Regions from separate parts of the Homo sapiens genome. Here all the other regions are linked to region 4. Evidence: fine-mapped expression QTL. A gene starts in region 4. Each other region holds a variant in brackets. All regions are shown on one strand. Distances are from middle to middle.

Evidence for each region.
Region 1: its variant is fine-mapped to the expression of FAH in whole blood (TOPMed, PIP 0.93).
Region 2: its variant is fine-mapped to the expression of FAH in whole blood (INTERVAL, PIP above 0.99).
Region 3: its variant is fine-mapped to the expression of FAH in whole blood (TOPMed, PIP above 0.99).

Annotation. Positions count from the first base shown.
Region 1 is chr15:80,122,486-80,127,636 of GRCh38, forward strand. It overlaps ZFAND6 (zinc finger AN1-type containing 6), which reads left to right. Exons shown (of 7, transcript NM_019006.4): 5 at 215-315. Among named protein-coding and RNA genes, the nearest start is that of FAH, 28 kb to the right of the region's middle. The variant A/G (reference allele first, on the strand shown) is at 2,019.
Region 2 is chr15:80,182,842-80,187,992 of GRCh38, forward strand. FAH (fumarylacetoacetate hydrolase) reads left to right here. Exons shown (of 14, transcript NM_000137.4): 14 at 3,289-3,508. The coding sequence ends at 3,368. Among named protein-coding and RNA genes, the nearest start is that of FAH, 32 kb to the left of the region's middle. RefSeq lists an enhancer at 3,326-3,826. The variant C/T (reference allele first, on the strand shown) is at 3,054.
Region 3 is chr15:80,173,647-80,178,797 of GRCh38, forward strand. It overlaps FAH (fumarylacetoacetate hydrolase), which reads left to right. Exons shown (of 14, transcript NM_000137.4): 10 at 1,370-1,445; 11 at 3,891-3,937. Among named protein-coding and RNA genes, the nearest start is that of FAH, 23 kb to the left of the region's middle. The variant C/T (reference allele first, on the strand shown) is at 2,649.
Region 4 is chr15:80,149,969-80,155,119 of GRCh38, forward strand. It overlaps FAH (fumarylacetoacetate hydrolase), which reads left to right and starts at 3,031. Exons shown (of 14, transcript NM_000137.4): 1 at 3,031-3,167. The coding sequence starts at 3,087. RefSeq lists a silencer at 2,460-3,019.

The DNA.
Region 1 (5,151 bases), 27 kb before region 4:
TACACTGTTGCTTTGTTTCCAAGGCAGTAAAATTCTGGTCCAAATTAGTCTCTAGTTTTAAAGCTCTATGATTATGTTTAAGTTATTAAAAAAAAGTATGTCTGTGTTCTCATCTTAATTATCTACTTAGATATGTTGAACTCTTACTGTGTCACATTAGTTAATATTCATGTGTAGAGATCACCTTTTAAAATGAAATATTTTGCTTTTCTAGCCCTGTATCAAATCAGTCACTTTTATCAGAATCTGTAGCATCTTCTCAATTGGACAGTACATCTGTGGACAAAGCAGTACCTGAAACAGAAGATGTGCAGGGTTTGTATATGAACTAGCATGTATTTTGTTATTTGAGTATTATAGGCCAGACACTATCCTAGGTGCATGTATAAAAAAATTGCCAGCTTAAAATACATGTTTTTCTGTTTTCCCTATGAACACAATACTTTATATCTTTAAGTATTTAATTAACATGTTGGGGAGCCATTTCACACTTACATGTAATTTTATCATCAGCATAAATGTTGCAAATTCAAAATTTGTTTAGTTTGGAAAATATAATTAAATGAATGTGTGGCAGTGTTACACTGTTCTCTTTTACTATTTTGGCCGTTTCAGTCTATATACTACTCTGTAAGAAAACTGGGGCTGCTGGTTTGAGGGGCATCTCTTTCTTTTGTGTTTTGACTCATTATCTGAGAGACTGTGTCCATCGTGCCTGGCAGTTCTCCTTTTTTCTTCCCCATGTGTGCAATAGTCACATTCAGTTGCTCGTATTCACAGCATGGTATCTATCGTGTCTTGCCCATGCTCTTCATATCCCCATTATGAAGCTCAAAGTGATCTAGGAAGACTTGAAAATTTGTATGAAGGCTTTCGTAGTAGGGAGAGAGAATGCGGAGTAGGCCATTTTGGAGGCTATTAAATAATCTCTGCTTAATTAGTTGTATTCTAGCAGTGTGTGGAAATAACATGGTAACAAGGAAGGATCTCTGGAAAGATAAGCCTAATGAAGAGCAGTGTGTCATTCTGCCTGTGAGATGATTTACCAGTGAAACTTCATTGCACATGGTGTTCACATGATGGTAACAGATACATCTGCCAATCCTAGTTTAAGATGGCTAAATTTTTAATTTAGGCCAGGCACTGTGGCTTGTGCCTATAATCCCTACCTACTTGAGAGGCTAAGGCAGGAGGATCGCTTGAGTCTGGGAGTTTGAGACTAGCCTGGACAACAAAAAATTAGCCAGGTGAGGCGGCACATACCTGTAGTCACAACTACTCAGGAAGCTGACGTGGGAGGATTGCTTGAGCCCAGGAATTCAGGCTGCGGTGAGCTATGATCGTGCCACTGCACTCCAGCCTGGGTGGGCACCAGAGCAATTCCCCCACACCCGGTCTCAAGAATTAAATAAACAAATTTAAATAAGCTAGGTAGTTCCTCTTGCTTTTTTTTCATACCCAGCAAATACTTGAACCAGTTTGCTTGTTTGTGTAGATTTTGCCGTAACAAAAGAATATTCTGTGTGGTCAACGTAAATATTCTAGTCCCATCTAGCATATTGTGATAAATTCTTAAATGTTTTAAGTGAATAATTCTTATTTCTTAGTTACATCAAAAAATTTAAGGAAGGGCAGAAATGAGGAATCTTTAAAGAAATAAGGAAAAGACTGGGCGCGGTGGCTCACGCCTGTAATCCCAGCACTTTGGGAGGCTGAAGCGGGTGGATCACGAGGTCAGGAGATCGAGACCATCCTGGCTAACACGGTGAAACCCTGTCTCTACTAAAAATACAAAAAATTAGCTGGGCGTGGTGGCGGGCATCTGTAGTCCTAGCTACTGGGGAGGCTGAGGCAGGAGAATGGCATGAACCTGGGAGGCGGAGCTTGCGGTGAGCCGAGATGGCGCCACTGCACTCCAGCCTGGGCAACAGAGCGAGACTCCGTCTCAAAAAAAAAAAAAATTTAGAATGTTGGCAGTGAAAAAAATGTATAAAGCTTAAGAATACAATAGTATTTAC[A/G]GAAGTTTGACAAAGAATAAAGGTCATAGATTGGTGAACTATCATAACACATAGGAAGTGTTTTTATACCATTTATTTATAAAAGTGTTTTTATTTCCATTTGTGGTGTATGGAAAACAATACCGTTTTCTCCACTTAGCCCTGAGTATATCACTTCAAAAGGTGGTCCTGATGCCATATTAGGAGAAATTGTATAGGCCCCATTTTTCATACATGATTTGAATGACTTTTAGGTTAAACCAGTATTAACTTGTAAGTACCTTTAAAAAACTTAGCATTCGTAATATCAGCAGCAAATCTTTGATAAATTAGGTATAAGTTTCATCTCAGTTTTAAGAGAGGAGGGTTAGGTTCCAGTATGTAAAATCTCTTAACAACCTAGTTTTTAAAAAAAATTTAACATATTATTGAATTAAGAATACCCTTTTTATTATAAACATACACAAATATAAACATGTATGTTTGTATATATGTACGTGTATATTCTGTATGTGCACACACTCATACACTTACATGCAATTACGATTTCCCTATTGATCAAATTCAAATAACTTTTTTTCCATTTATTTAATAGATGGATGAAAAGAGACAGAAAAAGTCTCTTTGAGTCAGTCATATGGTCATAAAAGCTGGAACTGGAATCCAGGGACCTAACTCATAGAGGCCAGTATTCTTATGATTAGACAGTTGTGGAGCTTGTTGGACTAGGATGTGGATATGTGTATTCCTGTTAACACATACATCTCCCTCAGTTCTCAGGGTAGGATCAACTCGTTTAGCAAACTACCCAGGTATCAGTTTTCTTCTTCCTCACTCCATATGCTTCCCTCAAGGGAAATTTATATAGATAGGAAAACCATCCCAAATGGAAGAAGGTATATGAGTAGCAGCTATATGTCTAAGCCAGAAGTTTGTAACATTTTGTAATTGGAACATTCAGAACAACTTTTTCTCTACATGTATTCTGCTTATAATTAGGATATGCTGCCACCAGGTTGGTGGTACTGCTTTCATATTGGCCACATGGCTCTGAAGAATTTTTATGTTTCATTGAGAATTTAGCATATTGAAGCATGTTTCTTAGTTGTTCTTTTTGATTTAAAAATATAGCAGTACCTTACTTACATAGTGTCACTCAGGAGTATAAGTCAAATTTCCAGTTCACAAATGCTAGCTTTTAAAAGAACTACTTTAAGCATTTTGGTACACTCTAAAACTGTTGAAGAATATGCTTAAATTTGGTCAACCTCTTAGTCCCTCAGATCTTGGGTCATAGTAGAAAAATACTGAATTTGGATTCATAAGTTCTATTTTCCTATCTTGGTATGCCTGCTTAACTTCACTGAGCCTTACTTTCATTACTCTTAAAAGAGAATAAGAATGTCCCTCTTACAGGGTATTAAAAGATACTGAGATAATGGAGGTTGGATGAGCTTTGTAAGCTGCAGAAGATATTCTTTATATTGCCCAAGTGATTTGGGAGTTGTAGGAGGCCTAGAGTAAGAGAGAATTTTGAAGCTTTCCAACACTCGAATGATGTCATATGTTAAGATGGTAAGGTCTACATCACTGAAGCATTCTAGGAAAGATGAGTTGATGTTAGAGACCATATAGAGAGAGGAATGCTGTGCTTAGTGACAGGATGAACTAGAATTCTCAGGCTCTTTCCTACTCTGAGGGTTTCTGACTTTATACAAAGTTGAATTGTCAAATCATTGGTTCAGAAAAATCAGAGGGGGACAGTCTCTTTGGACTGATTTAGGAAAGCTGTATGGGTTTTAAAAATCAGGCATTTCTTCTGATTCTAAAGAATGAGTGAGAATAGCCAAAGGTATCTTGAAAAATAACAAAGTTGGAGGACTAACAATTCCTGGCTTCAAAATTGAGTACAAGCTACAGTAATCAAGACTGTGTTGTACCGGCATGAGGATAGTCATGAAGGTAAGTGGAATAAAAAATTGAGAGTCCAGAAATAAACTCTTATTATATTTATGGGCCATTGACTTTCAACAATGGTGCCAAAATCATTTGATGGGAAAAGAGTAATCTTTTAAACAAATGATGCAGGAACAACTTCATATCCACATTCGAAAGAATGAATTGGACTCCTATGTCATACCATATGCAAAAATTCACCCGAAATACATCAAAGACCTAAAACGAATATAAGAGAACTATAAAACTCTTAAAGCAGGTATACATTTTTGTGATCTTGGTTTAGGCAGTGGTTTCTTAGATATGACACCTTAACCACAAGCAGCCAAAGAAATTATAGATAAATTGAGCTACATCAAAATAAAGATTTTTGCTTAAAAGAGTGGAAAAACAGCCAGGTGCAGTGACTTATGCCTGTAATCCCAGCACTTTGGGAGGCCAAGGTGGGCAGATCACTTGAGCTCAAGAGTTTGAAACCAGCCTGGGCAACATGGCAAAACCCCATCTGTACAAAAAATAGCCGAGTGTGGTGGCGCACGCTTGTAGTCCCAGCTACTGGGTAGGGAGGCTGAGGTGGGAGGATCACTTGAACTTGGGATGTTGAGGCTGCAGTGAGCCATTAACGCACCACTGCACTTCAGCCTGGGTCACAGAATGAGACCCTCTCTCAAAAAATAAAAGAGTGGAAAACCAGCCTACAGAATGAGAGAAAAAATACTTTGAAATCATATATGTGATAAGGATATATAAATAATTACAATTCAACAATAGAAAACCCATTTTAAAAATAAGCAAAGGATTTGAGTGGACATTTCTCCAGAAAAGATATACAAGTTTCCAATAAACACATGAAAAGATGCTCAACAGGGCCGGGTGCGGTGGTTCACATCTGTAATCCCAGCACTTTGGGAGGCTGAGGCGGGCGGATCACCTTAAGTCAGGAGTTGGAGACCAGCTTGGCCAACATGGTGAAACCCCATCTCTACTAAAAATATGAAACTTAGCTGGCTGTGATGTCATGCGCCTGTAGTCTCAGATACTCGTGAGGCTGAGGCAGAGGAGAATTGCTTGAACTTGGGAGGTGGAGGTTGCAGTGAGCTGAGATTGTGCCACTGCACTCCAGCCTGGGCAAAAGGGCAAAACTCCATCTCAAAAAAAAAAAAAAAAAAAAAAAAAACCATGCTCAACTTCATTAGAT
Region 2 (5,151 bases), 33 kb after region 4:
GGATTGAGTGAAAGCATTTTCTGAAGTTTTGATTTGGGGAAAGGAAGGAAAGAGATGGTGGCAGAAGAGAAAATGATGGCTTTAACTCTCTGTTGTCAGTGTGATAAGGGCCCCTGACTAAGCCATGCTAGACCAGGCAGCTGTCCAGGGCCTGGGAGAAAGGAGGCTGGTATCTAGCAGTTGGAATGCACATGTGTTCTTGACATTTGAGCCAGAGAAGGAAGGAGAAAGGAGCCAAGATGCCATGAGAGTCATTTCCATGTTTGTTTGTGTATACAACGCCTTACTCCGGAAGGATTTTTGGAGGCCAGCAGAGGAATTCAGGGAAAGGCAGTTCCTTGGATCTGAAGAAGCACATGTTGGCAAGTGAAGAGGGAAATGGGAACAGATGGGCAAAATCCCCTGGAACCAAGAAAGAAGAATTATAATTTGCTAAGAGGAGAGGCATACATTATGTGTTCATAAAAAGAAAAAAGAGAATTTCATACAGAAGGGGACCACTGAAAAACTCAAAAGAATGCATATTGCTAGAATTTGGGCTAAGCAGGGGGTAAGCAGAGGAGCGGGCAGGTGGAGGTGGTGTGTCAGCTGTGTTACCTTGTGCAAAGGTTCCCCGCATTGGCGGACGGCTCTGCCCTCACCTTCTACGACTTCACTGGTCACGTGGCCCTGCTGAGCTGCTTTCTTGCTTGAAAGCCACACATGGTTTCTTCAGCTCTTCCCGGCTTTCCTCCTCCTTCTCTGCACCTGCTCAGATGCCTTTATGGCTGCCTCTCATTTCCCTGCTTGCTCTTCACGGATGCTCCTTCCCCAAATCAATTTCTAACCATTGGAAACGCGATAGAACATTCAGAAGTGCTGGCATCAGCCAACGCCGCAGCACTTACTGCAGGCCAGACACTGTGCCAAGTGCTTTACCTGCAATACATTTTCTATTCCAAACAAGGCAGCTACTCTTACTGTCTCTATTTTTCAGATGTGGAAACTGAGGCCCAGAAAGATGCATACTTACCCAGGATCACACAGGCGATAAAGGGTAGAGCCAGGGTTTGAACACAGGCAGTTGGGCTCCAGGAGCTGTGCTCTGAACCCTTGTGTCCTGTTGCCTCTTTAAATGGCGCGATGAAATTCTCATTTCTGAGAGAGTCCAAAAACCACAAAATGTTCAGCAAGAGAACAGGTGAAGTAAACAAACCAAAAATATCAACAAAAATCTCTGATCGTCTTGGTTTAACTCATCCATCCCCTAGTCTCGCTCACAAACCCCATCTGGTGTTGAGCTTGCAACTTGCAAGGATGTGTTCTCGCAGGCATTTGCACGGATGGCTCTGCACTGCTGGACACATGCATTTCTCACTCTCCTTCAGATCTTTGATTTGTTGATAGTTATGATTTGTTGTGGATTCTTTCTTGGTATCTGACATTATTTGGAAACAATATCTGAGCAAAAGTCTTTCGTTTCTTGCCCTGCGTCTCTCAGTGGTGGCGTCTTTCACCTGGTGTTCCTGTGTCTCTGTTTATTCCAGTTTCTCTCCCCAGCATTATTGCTTGCCTTGCCTGGCACAGAATTCCTGCGCAAGGCTGACCAGGGGTCCCAGGGTGTAGAAGCAGTGACCCTTCTCCTTCAGGACCATGGTTGGGAGAGACTCTTTAAAAATGCTGCAGTTCCGAGTTAGTTGTTTTGATAGATGTTTAATAAATTTCTGCTGGGAGCCAGTTTTACTTTAATAGGCTTTTTTTTTCACCCCAGTGGTGTGGATATTTCTGAGCATTGAGGTGGAAAAGAGACTGACAGAAAATAATGAAAATGAGCAACAGAATAGGTGAGGTCGTTGCTCTCGACAAAGGGCATCCCTGCATGTTGTCAGCATGTGGGTCACGGGGCTTCTTAGGGCCCCCCAAAGGACAGCCTCACTGAACAGATGTGACAAATGCATCTCGTGCCTGAGTGTCTGAGCCTTTGCACGTGTTCTTCCCTCTGTCTGGAATGGCATTTTCATGTGTCTTCCCTAATGAACTCCTAGCTACCCGTCAAGGCCCAGCTAAGATATCCCCCCTTCCTGCTCCCTTTCCCTCCATGCTGCTCGCTCAGCACCTTGTAAGCATTTCTCTGTATCTCTCGTCTGGACCTCCCACTCCCTCTAAGTGGACCCCTCTCAAGGGCAGAGATGGGCTTCTCTCTGCTTTTCCATCATCCTTGTTGAAATGGAATTAAATGAAGGAAACTAATATTTATTAGTTTCTGAGATGTGCTGGGAATTTCACTGAAATATTTAGTCTAATCCTTACAACCTTGAGAGATAAGCGTTGTTTTTCTTGTTTGCAGATGAGGGAGGTGAGTTCTGAAGTCAAACAGCTTGTTCCCAGCCACCCAGCTCATAATGGTTGTAATGACTGACACTTACAGGGAATTTCAAATAGGGACTGGAGGCTGTTCTCAGAGTTTTCTATGCATTTGCTCCCATCATCCTTGCAGCAGTCCTGTGCGGTGGGCACTATCATAAGATCCATTGCACAGATGAAGAAACTGAGGTCTAGAGGGACCCAAGGTTACAGAGCCAATAAGTAGAGGAGCCAGGCTTTGACCTCAGGCATTCTGGCTTCAGGCTAATTGGCAGAGCGAGGATTTGAACCCAAACCCATGTGGGGAGAGTTGACCACTGTATTAGTCTGTTTTCACACTGCTGATAAAGACATTCCTGAGACTGGGTAATTCATAAAGAAAGAGAGGTTTAATGGACTCACAGTTCCACATGGCTGGGGAGGCCTCACAATCATAGTGGAAGGCAAAAGGCATGTCTTACATGGTGGCAGGCAAGAGAGAATGAGAGCCAAGTGAAAGGAGAAACCGCTTATAAAAACATCAGATCTCATGAGACTTCTTCACTACCATGAGAACAGTATGGAGGAAACCGCTCCATGATTCAATTATCTCCCACTGTGTACCTCCCACAACACATGGGAATTATGGGAGCTATAATTCAAAATGAGGTTTGGCGGGGGACAGAGCCAAACCATATTAGCCACAGGAAAGCTGTTGAGCCTTGCAGTGC[C/T]TCTGAGGATCCCTGGCTGTGGGGTGGGCCCGGGTTCTAGTCCAAGGGCTCCTGCGTGCAACTCTGCCCAGCTTCCGTGGAGGGTTATTCTTGTGTTTAAGATATGTGTGTGTGATTCTGATGGCACCTTCCTGCCTCGGGCCAGCTGTGTGCTGACGGGCACTGCCGCTGCCTAGGTGTTGGTTCCGGTGAGCCCAGCAACTTTGTGACTGATCCTTGTCCTCCTCTGTTCCAGGGTACTGCCAGGGGGATGGTTACCGCATCGGCTTTGGCCAGTGTGCTGGAAAAGTGCTGCCTGCTCTCCTGCCATCATGAGATTTTCTCTGCTCTTCTGGAAACAAAGGGCTCAAGCACCCCTTTCAACCCTGTGACTGGGGTCCTCCCTCGGGCTGTAGGCCTGGTCCGCCATTCAGTGACAAATAAAGCCATTGTGCTCTGAGGCCTGCACTGCCGCAGATGCAGCTGTGTCCACTTATGATCGTGATTTGATCCAGTGGGTCAAGGTGTGTAAAGCCTCCCTGCCAGATATTCATTAATATGTTTTCTCACTCTTATTAGTGAGGTCAGGGGTCTTTGTGGGATTTTCTTATTAGACATCCCAGGCCTCCTGGTATTCCATGGAATTTGAAAAGAGACTGGCACCTGTAGTAGTCAGGGCTCTCCAGAGAAATAGAACCAAGGAGAAAGAGATCGATTTATTGATTGATTGATTGATTTTAAGCAAATTGGCTTCTGGGATTCTGGAGGGTGGCAAGCCCAAAACCTGCTGGGTGGGTTGCTGGCTGGAGACCCAAGGAAGAGCTGCAGTTTGAGTCTGAAGCAGTCTGCTGTCAAAATTTCCTCTTCCTCTGGGAAGTGAGTCATTGTTTGGTGAAGGCCATCAACTGATTAGATGAGGCCCAGCCACACTGTGGGGGTCTTCTGCTTTACTCCACTGATTTAAGTTTTATTTCACCTAAAAAGTACTTTCTTAGAAACATGTAGAATAGCATTTGAGCAAATATTTGGGTACCTTAGTCTAGCCAAATTAATACAGAAAACTGCCCATCACAGCACCCTGCATGTCCAGTGTTTCTTGGGGCTAACGGATGAGCACATATGGGTTGTAGGCTTGGTTCATGGGCCCCGTGGCTGCGTCTCCACACTGTAAGCCTTGGGAAGAGCCTCCGAGTCATGGGTGAGCACCTGAACTGTGATGATGGCAGAAAAGGACCTAGCTTTTCACCTCTTGCAAGCCCACCAGAGTCAGGAGAGTGAGCTCTGCCCCATCTCTTCTGTCCCAACCCATTGCACACAGGCAGCCCTGGTTCTACCCTAGTTCCTTGGTGATGACAGCAGGGGAGTATGCCCTGCGACCTTTCCTGGGCCTGATGAGCCTTATACCGGGGCCTAGGGGGATAGTTGAGGATGCAGAGCCCATCCGTCAGATCGCACCATTCATTCATTCACTCAACAAATCTTTATTGAGCACCTTCTGTGTGTTAAGCACTGTTCTAAGGATGAGAGGCACAGCAGTAAACAGAATAGCCCATTTGAAGCTTACATTCGAGTGGAAAGAGATAGACAATAAACAGATAAGGAAAAGACATGTGGTATGACAGATGGTAATAAGTTTTATGGACAATTGGGAGATGTGGATGCTATTGTTAATGTGGTTAGAGAAGGCCTTAATCCCATAGTACATTTCTGCTAGAGAGCTGAAGGAGTGAGGGGAGCAGGCCAGATGGATATCTGGGGACAGAGTCCTCCAGGCACAGGAATCAGCCCGTGCAAAGCCCTGAGGATGGAATATGCTTATCATTTCTAAAGAACATCAAGGAGGCTGGTATTTCTTCCTTACATAAAAGCAACCTGGGGTCAGGAAGGCTGGAGTTAGTGTGGCAGCTGCACAGTGTCATTAAAGATACCTCTGCTCTGCCATCGTCGGTATGTGGTTTTTAGTCTCAGGGTTACATTATGATACAAAATGGCTGCTGGAGCTCCAACTAGTACATCTAAGTTCCAGGCCAGCAGAAAGAGACAACAAAGAGGTGAGGACTGGGAGGATGGAAGGGCAGAAGAGCCCTCCTTCCTCCTGAGTTAGGTCATTTTAAGCAGC
Region 3 (5,151 bases), 24 kb after region 4:
GCAATCTGCCCCACTCCATCACTGGCAACACCTGGCCAGAGTCACCTGTGACCCGATAGTCAGTGTCATGACCTTGTGTCCCCTTCAGCATGGACTTCCTGTGGCCCCTCACTCTTGTTGGCATTCCCTCACCCCTTGGTTTCTGGCATGTGACCTGTCCTCGTTCTCCAGTGTCTCTGAGTCCTCACGATGCCCCTCTCCAATTCTGACCTCCCTGTGGGGATCCAGGCTGAGCTCCCAGCCATTTGCACATCCTCGCTTGAGCATCTCACCACGCATTTGCTGGGGGCCTCTACCAACACCCGGTGCTGGTCCTGCACCCACACTGCTCTCCCATGCTCCTCTGCCTCTGGGGTCATCTCATGTTTGCTGTGCTACAAACAACCCTGAGGTCTTTCCTTGCAAGCCAGTTCTAGTGAAGTCCTGTGGGGCTTTCACCCTCATCCCTTGCTCTCTCCTCGCTGCTCCCTACCACAGCACCCCCTGCCCACCCTGGTCATTTTCAGTCGCCAGGACTTGACTTTCTCTCTAGCTGGCAGCGGCCTTGTCTAGTCTCCCTAGGGCTGCAAGGCCACAGCCTCTCTTTGCTTGTCCTCCAGTCATCTGCCTTCTTCCGGGTCGGTCATCACAGGGTTTTGCCTGCCTTCCTCTGTGCCAGCCCTTCCCCAACACCATTTAGGTACAACACTACTATTCCCCCTCTGAACTATTATTTACTTAATGTTTTCCTTCAGAGTGGCTCCCAGTTTAAACTTAATATATTAAGAAGGGAACTTTATATTCCTACTGGCATCACTAGCTACACTGTTTCATAACCATTAGTATCACCAAAAACGATCTCATGTCCCGTGGGTGACTCATGTACCATGCTTTGGAAAACACTGCTTTTGGCCGGAGTGCAGGCGTTCTGGCCCAGCCATCCAAGCTGCCTCCCTAGCTGGCTCCAGCACCAGCCAGGGCTGTCTACTTCTGTTGTGACCCCTCTGCCTTCCAGGGGCCCTGCAATGCGCTTTCAGGCCCAGCCTTTCCTCACAGGCCAGGCTTTGTTCTCCATCTCGGCCTGTCTGCTGCCCACCTTCCCTTTCTCTCCCCTCCTGTGGCTTTCAGGAACATCTCTGGTTTGGCTCCTGTGACCTTTGACCTGCTGATGCCCCTTCCTTGGCTGCATTTCCTAGAGACCCACAGTATGATCCCCCCTACTGCTATCCAGGGACACAGTGCTGGGTCCCTGGAGAGGGAATGCTCCTGCTGTCTCAGACCCTCTGCCTAGGGGAGCAGGTGCTGCTGGGGGCCTGGCTGGTATGGGGGCCCAGCCGGGTGAGCTCAGCCCACCTGCCAGTGACCTCTGTGCTGTGCTTTGCCCTCTCAGGACCCCAGGCCCCTGCCGTATCTGTGCCATGACGAGCCCTACACATTTGACATCAACCTCTCTGTTAACCTGAAAGGTATGTTGTAGGGGGACTGACATGGCCAGGAGCTCTGAGGCAATGTGTGCCTGTGTGCCTTGTCCTGAAGGCTCCTGAGCTTTGGCAAGGGTGAGGGCACGTGCTACAGCCCTGGAGATGTGTGTGGCTCGTCTAAAGGAAAGAGGAGGGGAGGGGAGGGGACACCCTGGTGCTCACTGGGAACCTAACTGGGCCCATAGGGCATTAACCCTGTCACTGAGCTCTCAGTGGTAGGGCTGAAAGGATGGAGTCCGGGACTTCCATCTTCTGCTTGAATCCCCTCCCCAGCCTCTCCAGGGGCTGCCTGGCTCCTGCTCACATATCGCCACTGACCCTCACTTCCGTGGTGGGTGGCACATTTCATTGAGTGCCTGTTTGAAAGCATGTCCTTGTGGGTCTGTTCGCTTGGCTGAGCCCCTGGGGCCACACAGAGCCAGCGCATCAAGACCCCAGATTCCCACCATGGGCCAGCCCTGAGTGTCTTGCAGACAGACCCGAGATCCCCACCCTGGGCCAGCCCTGACATAGACAGGGCCCACATCTCCCTGTGGCTGCTCAGCCCGCCTCCGCGAACAGGCCCAATGGGGCGTTGGTAATAAAGAGACTGGCTCTGCAGGCCATGACTCTGCTGCTCAGCTGTGGGACTTTGGGCAAGTTGCCAAACCTGGCCATGTCCTCATTTGTCATCTATGAAATGGGATAATAGCGGCGTTGACCTCATGGTGTGTTGTGAGGACCAAACATGTCAATTCATGCAAAGGTCTGGGACAGGGTCTGTACCTAGAAAGAGTCAGGTGTCATTTTCCAATCCCAACGGGGGCCCTCGGATGGGGAGGGTTTGCCTGGTGGCCACACACAGACCTCCTAGCCACACTCTGGCCAAATCTCCTTTTTAGCTCCATTCCATTCCTTTTTCTTTTCTTTTCTTCTTTTTTTTTCCCCCGAGATGGAGTTTCACTCTTCTTGCCCAGGCTGGAGTGCAATGGTGCGATCTTGGCTCACCACAACCTCTGCCCCTGGGTTCAAGCGAGTCTTCTGCCTCAGCCTCCTGTGTAGCTGGGATTACAGGCATGCGCCACCATGCCTGGCTAATTTTGTATTTTTAGTAGAGATGGGGTTTCTTCATGTTGGTCAGGATGGTCTTGAACTCCTAACCTTAGGTGGTCTACCCACCTAGGCCTTCCAAAGTGCTGGGATTACAGG[C/T]GTGAGCCACCATGCCCGGCCAGCTCCATTTCTTTCTTCTGTCTGCTCTGTCTGTACACTCCAGGCTTTGCCATGTCTGTCTCACTGTCAGTTCCAGGGTCTCGGCCCTTCATGAGGTGGTTCCTGTCAGGAGGCGCAGTACACTGCAGGAGCTGTCGCCATGGGAGCAGGATGCTCCATGGAGAAAGAGCTGTCACAGAGAGCCTCCTGGCTGCCCAGGGCCCTCTGGGAAGCTGTGCTGGGCCCGCTCTTTCAGGTTCCAGGTCAGGAAGCTGAGGCTCAGAGAGGAAAAGGATTCACCCCGAGCCACCTACCTGGCTAATGGCAGGGCTGGGACTCAATCCAAGTGTGTCACAAGTTCTAGGTTGGCCTCCTGCCACCCACAATGCGTGCTTGGAGTATACTTTCTATCTGGTTTTGTCCTCAGTATTCCTGGCTGCCTAGAGGTGAACCTGCCCGCCCGGGGGAGGCCACTGGTAGAAAAGGGACAAGATTATCCAGAAAGCACAGTGTCCAGAGATGTAGTCCTGCATTTGCAGTTCTGATGTTCTGAGTTGGGATCTGGGCGAAAGGGTCTGGGGAGGAGCAGCCTTGGCAGACCCAGACCTCGCATGGCTGAAGAGCACACCTGTTCTGTGCCACCTCAGAGGGGAAGTTAGGACCAAGGGAGGAAGCCAGGTTTTGAGGGAGCAGAGGAGCTTTCTACTTATTAGTGCTGTTCAGAAGTGGAACGGCAACAGCCCGGTACCTTGCATGTAGTAGATGTTTAGTAAATATTGTTTAGTACGTTGTGAAGTAGCACACTGCCCATCACTGGAGGAGCTCGGCAGGGGACAGATGACCCAGCTATCCAGAGGACTCCTGAGGGGACAGCAGGTTATCCTTGATCAAAGGTCACAAGTAGCTTTCAAATGGCACACTATCTTTAGTGGATTTGCGGGTGCCAGGATCACTGTGTTAAGAAGGATTCTGAGGCTACATATGGACTCAGAGCAAACATGTGCTGTGATCAATTAATGCTGCCTGCTGTAGGCGTGGGAGGAGGAAGTGATGACTTGTGTGCATGTATTGGCCAACCCTGGACCTCCCAGCTCTGATGTCCTAGGAGCTAATTGTTTCACAGACTCTAAGTGAAATCATGTTGGACAATGGGAAGCTTCAGCCACAGAACAATTCTTTTTTTATTTTCCTCCCTGATGCATGGAATTAAGTTTTCATCAATATTGCTTTTCTTTCCAACAGGAGAAGGAATGAGCCAGGCGGCTACCATATGCAAGTCCAATTTTAAGGTAAGCTTTGACGCTGATCAGACTGCTTTTTAGAATTGAGGGAAAGAGAGACTTTTCTTCCTGGCAGGAACAGGAGGAGAGCATTCCTTTTGGGATATGATGATGGGTCAGCCTGTGGGCCTGGAGCTTCCATGGCCTGTCTCTTTTAGGAGTGGCCATGGGGTCACAGAGTTCTCTCGAGATAGAGGCTGCATAAATGTGGCCAGTGATTTTCTTGGGGGAAAATAGGTGTTCCTGTAAAGGTCTAGTTCCTGGTTTATCCTGTCCTGCCAGGGGCTGTATTGATGAGAGTGACTTATTTTTTAAGTGAACTTTTAATTGAAGCATAATATACATAGATAAAAATGCACACATTACTGTAATCCCAGCACTTTGGGAGGCCAAAGTGGGAGGATCGCTTAAGCCTAGGAGTTTGAGACCAGCCTGGGCAACATAATGAGACCTTGTCTCTGCAAAAAGTAAAAAAATTAGCCGGGCGTGGTAGCATGCACCTGTGGTCCCGGCTACTTGGGAGGCTAAGGCAGGAGGATCGCTTGAGCCCAGGAGGTCGAGGCTGCAGTGAGCCATGATCACACCACTGCATTCCAGCATGCGTGACAGAGCAAGACCCTATTTCAAAAAATAAAAATTAAAAAAAGTGCATATTATACATGTACAGCTTGAAGAATTTTCCTAAAATGAACATCCCTGTGCAACCAGCACCCAGATCAGAAATGGAAAATTTCCAGCACCTCAGCAGCCCCGTGGGGCCCTCCAGGTCACTTCATCACTCCCTCCAGCAAAGGTCACTCCTCTCCTGACCTCTGCTACCATGTATTATTTTTTTTCTGTTTTTCAGTTTTATAGAAATGGCATCATAAAGTAGCATGTATTCTTTTGTAGCTGGCATCTTTGTTTTAGTGTTAGATCTGTGAGATTCAACCCTGTTGCTCTTTGCAGTGACAGCTCATTTTTCTCATTGCCTTATAGTGTTGCACTGTATAAATATTCCACAACTGACTTAATTTTTTTTTTTTTTTGAGATGGAGTCTCGCTCGTTGCCCAGGCTGGAGTGCAGTGGCGCGATCTCGGCTCACTGCAAACTCCGCCTCCTGGGTTCATGCCATTCTCCTGCCTCAGCCTCCCGGGTAGCTGGGACTACAGGTGCCCGCCACCACGCCCGGCTAATTTTTTTTTTTGTATTTTTAGTGGAGATGGGGTTTCACCATGTTAGC
Region 4 (5,151 bases):
TGTAAAGGAGTGAGGGACATGCTTTGTGTGAATGAGGGCTGCAGTGCAGTGTGTTGCTTTTTAGCATCAGAGGGAGGCATTAAATATGGTGCTACAGAGACCCAAACCAGCCTTCATTGCTGGAGATGCTGAAACTCACTGCGAGTCCTGAAAGTGTTCATACTCTTTGAGTCAGGAATCTTCCTTAGATAATTGTCAAGGAAAAGGAAAACATTCTGTGCATGCACCTCTTCATTGAACCGTTATTATTACCATCTAAAACATTGCGACTTCCTTAGCTAATGACAATGATCATAATAAAGCCTATTGGGCCTCAAGGAAAAATATTCAAGAGAATAAGGTAGGGAAAGACTGAAAAATTGCATCTATGTAAAGTTTATAAGGATGGAAAAGCCATGTGCATACAAATGGAATGAAAAAAAAACATGAAAATGAGAAGACTACATTGGTGGGATTATGGGCAATCTCTTTGTTTTAAAATTCTTTTTAAATAATTGTTGTGATATACGTGGCCAACACATTCTCTTCCAAAAAATGAGAAAGAAAAAATATAGTATACTTGCAAGTTATTTCAAATGCTGTTTTCCAAATAGAGAACAGCTTTGGCGTTTTCAGACACTGTGTATAATTAGTGGGTTGGTTAAGTCTATTTTAAAACTATGAAATCTTACTCCCTCTTTAGCCATCTCATCCCCACACCCTTTCCTACACATACATCTGCCCCATGTCCTTTCCCTAAAATACTTTGGTTTTCTTTCTCCAAGGGTTTTATCATTTAGGCTTTTGTTAACTTGTATGTATTCAGTAGAAGCTCCTGGCCTAGCATCCCCCACACAACACATGCTCCATAAAAACAGGAATTAAAGATGTGAGTTGCTGGTGTATCCCCATGGCCTGGCATAGGGCATGGGCTTATTAGTTATTGCTTCATTTCCTTTTGGTCAACAGTTTTATATTAATGACATGTATTTATGGAGAACCTATTCTGTGCCAGGTGTTTTGCTGGGTATTGACAGAGTTGCACATGGAATAAGAAAGCTCGTGGTTTTAATGGGAAGGGGCAGGGCAACTACAGAACGTGGAAATAATTCATTGCGTTGCAGCTGAGGACTAGCTTGAATTAGGCAGGTATCAAGTGCTCCCTGGAATGCCTCTTTATAAGGCCACCAAGTTGGGATACTCTCCTCTTCTTTTCCTCTTTCAGGAACCTACCAGAACAAATCAGACCACCTTCATTCCCTCCCCAGGGCTGACTTAAAAGAACTGAAGCCAGTCCTTGGCAGAGCCACTCAGGGCAGGAGATGAGAGCCAAGAGGCTGTGCCCAGATTACACTCCTTACTGGGTGATGATCACTGGTCACGCCTGGTGGACAGGCACCAGAGTGATCTCAGGGGCTAGGAAGGGGGGCTCAACAGCGGGCCCTGCTTGCCGTACTCGCTCCTCTCAAGCCGTCTGGTTTCAAGCCCACTTAGCTCACATTATCCTGCCATCTTCCAGCCTCTTCTCCCTAAGCTGAAATGCGGAGCAGCCTCCCTAACTCAGCAGTCACTGTGTCACATTCCTCAAGGATCTTCAGGGAACCCTTGCCCAGACTATCGTCTACTTTTCTAGATTTCAGCCGGCATCCTGGCTGTTTAAAAGTGTACCTGAATCATTCACACCAACAATAACACAACGACACACTCTCCGGTGTGTTCCAAGTGTCCTGGCTGTGGCATGGTCTCAAAAAACTGCAGCTGACTGCACATGAGTGATTAGATAACACCTTGAACCCACCCTAAGATAGTCTGCCTTTCCCTTCTTTCCTGTCTTCCTTCTTTTCTTTCTCCCTCTCTCTCTTCTCCTATTTCTCTTTTATCTTTCCTTTCCTTTATCCCCCTCCCCTCCTTTCCTCTTTTTCCCTCCCTTCTCTCTCTTTCCACACACACATAACCTGTATATGCCAGGCACTATTCTAGGTGCTTCACAAATATTAATTCATTCCATTCTTATATCAACTTTGTGAAGTAGGAACTATTATCATCAACATTATACAGAGAAGGAAGCTGAGGTAGAGAAAGTTTAAGTAACTTGTCCAAGGTTGAGCATCTTGTCAACGTCATTTTACTACTGGCATGTGAAACAGGTGAGTTATATTTTTTAGAATATTAATTCTCATTAATTGAAGCCTTCCAAACAGGCCTAACTGTCCCCTTCTCTGACATACAAGTGGAAGTGTCATAGCTGGACGGAGCATCATGGTATGAAGGCAGAAAGGACGCGACTGGGTGTTCTTCTGAAGCTCAGGGAGCAGCTCTTGGGGAGAAAGTGTTTCCAGGAAGCGGACAAGAGTTCTGTTGAGCTGAAGAGCAGGGCAGCAGCCGGGGCGAGCGAGGCTGGAGTCATGCAGGGCAGAGCCTTAAATGCTAAGCTGGGGTTTGCTCTCGGTAGGACCAGCTAGCTGCCCCGAGCGGGGGCTGGAACCAGATCTCCCCCACGTGGACTCGCGGACAGGGCGGGGATCAGGACGGGGGCGGGGCCAGGGGAGGGGCGGGGCTCGGGGAGTGAGGCAAGACTGGAGGGCCTGGGACTCTCGGGTACCCGGGCCAGGGGAGGGGCGGGGCTCAGGGAGGGAGGGAGAGACTGGATGACCTGGGGCTTGCAAGGCGGGGCGAGGGGAGGGGCGGGGCGAGGGGAGGGGCGGGGCTCAGGGAGGGAGGGTGAGACTGTGGAGGACCTGGGGCTCGCGGGGTCGGGGCAAGGGGAGGGGCGGGGCTCAGGGAGGGAGGAGAGACTGGAGGACCTGAGGCCCACGGGGGCGGGGCCAGGGGCGGGGCGGGGCTCTGGAAGGGCGGGCGAGACTGTGGAGGACCTGGAGCTGGCGGGGGTCAGGGTAGGGGGGAGGGGCAGGGCTCGGGGTTCGGGGGCGGGGTGTTCACGGTGAGACCAAAAGTCAGGTAGGAGCCTCCGGGGTCCCTGCTGTGTCACCCGGACAGGCCGTGGGGGCGGGCAGGGGGGCGGGGCCGGGCCTGACCACAGCGGCCGAGTTCAGTCCTGCTCTCCGCACGCCACCTTAGGCCCGCAGCCGTGCCGGGTGCTCTTCAGCATGTCCTTCATCCCGGTGGCCGAGGATTCCGACTTCCCCATCCACAACCTGCCCTACGGCGTCTTCTCGACCAGAGGCGACGTGAGCAGTGGGGCTTTGGCGTCCGGGCGCGGGGAGGGAGTGGAGTGGAGTGGAGTGGAGTGGAGTGGAGTGGAGTGGAATGGAGTGGAATGAGGGGCGGGATGGAGGCTTGTGCCATTTTTCTCTTAAGATTCGTTCCGTGAGAGTGCCTATGGGCTCGAGTCCCGCCTCGTAACTTTCTAGCTGTGCACGTTGTTTAACTTTTCAGCCTCATTGTCCGCAGGTTTGCTGAGAATTAAATGCAAAATGAAATGAATCGTGTCACTCTCCCAGACAAGCAGAGCAAGCAGGATTCTGTTACCGGAAGCTGCAGCACACAGGCATGCTGCCTACTCCGAGGTGGTTGCGGTGTGTTTCTCTCGCCCAAGAGGCCAGGTCAGGGCTGGTGGTTCATCTCGCTGGATAGCCCCTAACCCTAGAACCCGGGAAATGATAACCCGGTATGCGTAGCAGGTCAGAGGGGCACGCGCGTTTCTTGGCTTAGAGTTGTGAGATCTAAGATGGCAAGTGTCTCTGCCTATAGCTGAAATTCTTTCAGCTCCTGGTGTGGGCTCCCTGGCATTCCCCTACTGATCAGAAGAAAGAGGGCAGGGAAACAAACTTTGACTAAGTCAGTGTAGTCTGATTGGTAGAAAGAAGTATTTGAAAACTGGGGGTTTATCAGCAAATAGATAATAAGAGGTTCCCTAGGTTGGAAAAGCAGATTCCCTTGGATTTGTTGATGATATTTTTGGCTTAGATTTCTGCTCCCAACTTTAAAGGTAAACTCCTGATTCATCTCTGTAAGCCATAGAACCCCAGAATCAGGAAATGTTTGCTAAACGAGGGGCCTGGCAGTTGGCTTCTTCTTGGAAAGTGGGGTTCCCTCCTTCCCCCATGGCTTGTCATTGGATGCAAGTGGCTGGCCTTTTGTGGGCCTGTCTGCGGTAAGTGCTTTGGTCTAGAAGAGTCAACTTGTGGTTTCACATCTGGCCGGGCTGACCAGATGTTGCAAGGATACAGAAAGTGGACACTCAATCCCCTGGAGGACACAATCTGAGGCACATTAAATCTTAACTTGTGATGGCCAACAACCTTTCTGCAGACAGAGCCCTCCCTCTGCCCTCCTCAAACACTTTGCCCTCGGCAGATGTGTCCTCCCTCACCTTTCCTGGGAGCACAAATCCATTAGACAGAAACATTTGTGAGAGGCAGGCACACCCCAGTAGGGAGCTCTGACTTGCTTTCTCAGGGGAATCGAATTAATATCCGTTAGAGTGTGGCTAGGTGTTTTCAGACACCATGTCCCGCTGTTTCAACATCAGAATGTGCAGGGCAGCCACTACAGATGTCTGGAAGAGAGAGCCCCATTCCGCTGTCCTCTGATACAGTGCTGGGGGTGGAGAGTTGGCCCTTTGGCCTTCCAGCTGAACAAGCCTCTTCTGAAGCTTTCTCTGCAGGCATTGGACATTCCAACCGTGATGGCTGCCTTGCCAGGCAAGACTAGTTGCCAAGGCAAAACCTCCCTTCCCCCATGTCAGCAGTCAGCCTTTCCTAATTTGAGTGGAATAACAATGAATCCTGCCATCACTTTATTCATTTTTTTTTATTCAGCGAATGCTTATGAACCCCAACTCTGGTCCAGATTTTGCCTGGGCTCCGAGTTGGCATCAAAGACACAGGAGACGCCTTCCTTCCATTTCTGGTTGATGGACTAGTAAGGTGTACAGGGGTGCTCTCTGTGAAGGTAGGGGTGGTGGCCTCTGAGAACGGGGTTGTAGTAGTGTGGAGCTGGTTTTGCCGGGTGCCTTGTTAAAGTCCCCGTGGTCTGGCTGTGCTGCTGCCTCCTGGCCTCTGCTTTCTCCAGCCACATTGGCTGCCTTTGAGTCTCTGAGATGTGCTAAGAGCAGCTTCCTGCCTTCAGGCCTTAGCACATGTTGTTCCTTCTGCCTGGAATACTCGTCCTTCTGCTCTCTATATGCTTGGCCCCTTCTCACTCTTTGGG